2 separate regions of the Homo sapiens genome follow, and region 1 is linked to region 2. The links come from fine-mapping of genetic effects on gene expression. Tissue or cell type: prefrontal cortex. Region 2 holds a variant in brackets; the other region holds the start of a gene. All regions are shown on one strand. Distances are from middle to middle.

Evidence for each region. PIP is the estimated chance that this variant, and not a neighbour inherited with it, causes the effect.
Region 1: it holds the start of PRSS56, and the variant in region 2 is fine-mapped to the expression of PRSS56 in prefrontal cortex (ROSMAP, PIP 0.95).

What each region holds. Positions count from the first base shown.
Region 1 is chr2:232,519,172-232,521,785 of GRCh38, forward strand. PRSS56 (serine protease 56) reads left to right here and starts at 1,217. Exons shown (of 13, transcript NM_001195129.2): 1 at 1,217-1,524; 2 at 2,150-2,257. The coding sequence starts at 1,428.
Region 2 is chr2:232,542,382-232,544,881 of GRCh38, forward strand. CHRNG (cholinergic receptor nicotinic gamma subunit) reads left to right here. Exons shown (of 12, transcript NM_005199.5): 6 at 42-139; 7 at 501-701; 8 at 894-1,008; 9 at 1,204-1,318; 10 at 1,986-2,199; 11 at 2,391-2,500. It overlaps TIGD1 (tigger transposable element derived 1), which reads right to left. Exons shown (of 1, transcript NM_145702.4): 1 at 1,502-2,500. Among named protein-coding and RNA genes, the nearest start is that of CHRNG, 3.9 kb to the left of the region's middle. The variant C/G (reference allele first, on the strand shown) is at 1,148.

The DNA.
Region 1 (2,614 bases), 23 kb before region 2:
TTTGGTGGCTCTTACTGGGAACCGCAGGCGATCTTCCTTTGGACACTGTCTCTGTTTATGCTAAAATTCAAGCTGTGTTGAGCTAATGCCTTATCTACCAAGATTGTGGAGGTCATGGATAAAAAGATACCCTGCAAGATGGACAGATACTCTGGTGAATAGAGTCCTTTCCAACTTCACCAAATTCACTCACCAGAATCATCCGCAGACAGTATTTTCAGAGCATTCCTGAAGTAGAGGTATTGTCATGGCGAGGTGCGGTGGTAACTGGGGAAAGGGCTCCTTAGCATGGTGTGCTGGTCACTGTGGAACAGCTGGCTCTCCAGGGGGAAAGAGCCCCGGGTCATAGCATTTGCTGATAAATATTCCCACCAGTTCACCTCACATGAATTGGGGAGCCTGGGCAGCGCAGACGGGCACTATCCTACCCCAGGTGGTAACTCAGTCCCAGGAGAGCTGTGTGGCCCTGCCCATGAGACTCCAGAGGACTCCAGAAGAATCCCACTGCCAGATCAGGGTCACAGAACAATGCCGGACAGGCAGAGCGGGCACTGTGCAGGGCCAGGGGGTCTGGGAGAGCGTCAGAAGCTGCTAGGGCCTGTCCTCCCGGAACTGGGCCACTGTGGGCCTTTCATCTCCCGCCTCCCTTTCCGCGCCACTCCTGCGGCTGCCTGCCTCTGCCCCTTCCCACCCCACCACCCCCAGTGCGGCAATTACGGCGCTAATTAGGCTGCTTTGATCATCTTTAGAAATGGCCACATTGGGGAGGGACTCTGCCAAGCAATTAGGGGCAGAGGGGTGGGGAGCTCCAGGGCTTCCTCAGGGGGTGGGGCTGCTGAGAAACCCCAGACACCCCCTGCCCTCCTCCCTCCAGGAGTGTCTGCCCCGTCATAGCTGTAAGCTCCTCAGGGGGTAGAGGCAGATGGGGATCCCCCCCCATCCCAGCCCTGGAGCCAGGGCCCGCCCCCACCCAGCAGCCCCCCTCTGCCTGGCCTGCAGCCCAACCGTCAGCCCTTCTTCCCTGTCTTGGCCCCTTTGATGGAGCCGCAGAAACAAGGGCTCCTTTGACAGAAGGGGGGCTCGGAGCTGGGATGATGAGACTTCAGAGGTGAAGGTCAAGCCCACTACCCCACTCCTCCCCCAGTCTTGGCCACCCTCCCGTGCACCCCTCCCCCAGGCTGTCCTCTATAAAGACCCTGCAGCCCCATTCCCCTGTGGGCTCCTAGGAGTTAAGGGCCAGGTGAGGGCTGACCAGGGAGGCGGGTAATTTTGATGTAAGAGAACGGGGTCAGATGATTTGAGGGACAAGAATTCAGTGCCCGGGGGCCGAAAGGCAGCAGAAGGCGGGCACCAAAGGATAGGCACCCGGAAGGTGGACTCCGAGGAGGAGAGAGGACAGGGGTCTCTCACCCCAGCTCCTGGTCACCATGCTGCTGGCTGTGCTGCTGCTGCTACCCCTCCCAAGCTCATGGTTTGCCCACGGGCACCCACTGTACACACGCCTGCCCCCCAGCGCCCTGCAAGGTAAGTCCAGGCTGGCCCGAGAGCCGCGGGGTTGGGAGGAATGTAGAGGAAGTGGGACCCTGGGCGGGCGGGGACAGAAGAGCTTGTCACCCCCACTCATAAGGACCTTTGGCTCCTTCTGCCCACCCTGCTGCGAGAAGGGGCCAAGAACTGAGATATAGGTGGGAGAGGAGGGGTGTGGCGGGAAAGGGAAGGGGAGCTGTTGAGCATGCCGAAAGGAATGGAGAGAAGGCCCCAAGAAGCAGAGAGAAACGGCCCGGGGCAGCACCCTGCCCTTGGCTGTCCCGGCCGAAGGTGGGCCACTCAAACACAGCTACTTTCAGTCAATAAAGCTGAGTTCTGCGATGTCTGTATCTTTGGGGTGGTGTCTTTAAAAAAAATTGTTAAGGAAAAGCACCTTTCAAAGATCCCAGTCCAGCTCAGTTGAATTAGGGAGACATCTTGGGCTGAGAACCTGGGAGCACGGGCTCTGAGTGCTGGGCCCAGCGTCCCCGGGGCTCACTTGCCTCCTCATTCTGTCCCAGGCTGGTGGGTCTCCCGAGGCAGGGCTCAGGGCTGGGGCCAGGAGGATGAGGCTGAGGCTCTTCCCCAACCACGCATGATTGTGTGCCCCCTGTCCCAGCAGTTCTGTCGGCCCAGGGGACTCAGGCGTTGCAGGCAGCCCAGAGGAGCGCCCAGTGGGCAATAAACCGAGTGGCGATGGAGATCCAGCACAGATCGCACGAGTGCCGAGGTGCCCACCCTGCCCCCCGTGCCCCAGTGAGCTTGCTGCCTACCCTGGGCCCATTCTGCTGCCTCTGTCCCTTCCCTTCAGTCTTCACTCTCCTCTTGGGGGCAGAGACTGTGTTGGGCCGCAACCTAGACTACGTTTGTGAAGGTCTGTCTCTCCGAGTGGAAAGGACACGCTAGGCTTGGGGCATGGCCTGTGCAAAGGCAGGGAGGCGGAAACACTCTGGGCTCCTGTGGTGACCAGGAGAAGTTCATGGTTGCTGAAATAGAACCCGTGTGGGCTGGAGGGCTGAGCGCGAAAGGAGAGATGGGGAGAGAGAGGCTCGGCCCAGCCTGGGGTGAGGACAGGCGAGAGGGCAGC
Region 2 (2,500 bases):
CCACCCGCTCACATTTAGCCTCTTTCCTCGGTGACTCCCAGGTCCCAGACTTACAGCACCAATGAGATTGATCTGCAGCTGAGTCAGGAAGATGGCCAGACCATCGAGTGGATTTTCATTGACCCTGAGGCCTTCACAGGTAACCCCCACCCAAGGGCTCCCCAGGCAGCCTCATCCAGGGCTCCTGCTGGACCCAGCTGTGGTCAAGGCTGGACCAAGGTCAAATCCCTCCCATGTAACTCAAAATGAAAACTACAGCAAACCATAAAATATGCTTTTTAAAACGTCCAACAAAGCTCTGACTTTCCTCATGATAATGTCTCCAATTTTAGAAGAGGCTCGAGCATCCAATCTCCCACCCCACTTCTGTCCCTCAAGGGTGCCTCCCCTGCTGGTGCTCCTTAGGGCACATGCTGCCCTTGCAGCTGGGTCACTCGGCTGCAGGGATCTGCCTAGCTCACGCTTCTTGTGCCCACTCCTGCCTGCCTGCCTGCCCGCAGAGAATGGGGAGTGGGCCATCCAGCACCGACCAGCCAAGATGCTCCTGGACCCAGCGGCGCCAGCCCAGGAAGCAGGCCACCAGAAGGTGGTGTTCTACCTGCTCATCCAGCGCAAGCCCCTCTTCTACGTCATCAACATCATCGCCCCCTGTGTGCTCATCTCCTCTGTCGCCATCCTCATCCACTTCCTTCCTGCCAAGGGTACCTGGAGCCTATGGGAAGGAGCCATCCAGTAGCACAGGGGACACCTGGGAGGCCGGGGTGGGCCCTGCCTGGGGAACAGAGTGGCATTACGACCCAGGACAGAGGCAGCGGGCTACTTCTGGGGTAAGGGGTTCCTCTGTGGGTGGGGGAGGTAGGAACCTGCTCTGAGAGCCTCTCGGTCATGGATAGCTGGGGGCCAGAAGTGTACCGTCGCCATCAACGTGCTCCTGGCCCAGACTGTCTTCCTCTTCCTTGTGGCCAAGAAGGTGCCTGAAACCTCCCAGGCGGTGCCACTCATCAGCAAGTAAGGCTGGTCTTCATGTCCACCCGCCTATGCCACTCTCCCTTCTTGGGAGCATGATGGCCTCCTGCATTGCCCTCTTGCCCTCCATCCACCCCCCCCATCCTCAATTCAGGAGGCCTGAGGGGGGGCAGCCACTAAG[C/G]GTGGGGGTGGCATCATGGTATGGGCTGCCAGCTCCTGCCCACCCCACCCTGACAGGTACCTGACCTTCCTCCTGGTGGTGACCATCCTCATTGTCGTGAATGCTGTGGTTGTGCTCAATGTCTCCTTGCGGTCTCCACACACACACTCCATGGCCCGAGGGGTCCGCAAGGCAAGGACCCTCCCTGCCCACTTCAACATCCCGCTGCCCACTCCCCTACGCCTCCCTCTCGCACGCCCCGGCAGTACTCACCTGTGGCATTCCACAGCACACCCATCCTGGGCGTATCTGGACGCATGGACCAAAATCGATTACAGTAATACAGGAATGAAATTGCTTCCTAGGTGCCCGGGATATTACAAATGTTAATGTATTTCATCTTCATAAAACCCATATCACCTCCAATTACAGATGAGGACGTTGAGGCGCAGAGAGGTTAAGTAACCTGCCCAAGGAAGTGCACTACAAAGTCGAAAAAGCAGGAGTCTGCCAGGGCAGTCTGATTCCAGTCTGTGTGATCTGTAGCCCACCTGCAGCCTTCAGCTTGGGCCCTTGTTGCACATGCAGATTCCCAGGCCTGTCCCAGGCATTCTAGGCCAGAATAGCATGAGGGCTGGGGGCAGGAATCTGTGTTTATAACAAGTGCCCTGGTGATTCTGATGTGCACTGAAGTTTGGGGACCCAGGCTCGTGTCCAGTATAGAAAGCTTTACCAAGGCCACGTCACTGCCCCGGTATGCTGCCTCCATGGTCCCTAGCAGCACAAGCCCTTCACGCCAACCTCTGGCTTCTGCTCTGAAGCTCGGCCTGCTGCCCTAGTGAAGCCACCCCCTCTCTAGGTGTTCCTGAGGCTCTTGCCCCAGCTGCTGAGGATGCACGTTCGCCCGCTGGCCCCGGCAGCTGTGCAGGACACCCAGTCCCGGCTACAGAATGGCTCCTCGGGATGGTCGATCACAACTGGGGAGGAGGTGGCCCTCTGCCTGCCTCGCAGTGAACTCCTCTTCCAGCAGTGGCAGCGGCAAGGGCTGGTGGCGGCAGCGCTGGAGAAGCTAGGTGAGACACACCAGGTGTGCCTGGGGACAGTCCTCCCCTGGGACCCCAGCTGGGGAGCCAGGCACAGCAGATGAGTGCTGGAGAAGTGCCCAGGTCAGGGAGAGAGGAGCTGGGGTCCCTAAGGAGAGGCCATCTTCTCTGCCTGTTTCTCCTCCATTCTACTCCCAAACCTTACCCTTTCTCTTTATCAGAGAAAGGCCCGGAGTTAGGGCTGAGCCAGTTCTGTGGCAGCCTGAAGCAGGCTGCCCCAGCCATCCAGGCCTGTGTGGAAGCCTGCAACCTCATTGCCTGTGCCCGGCAC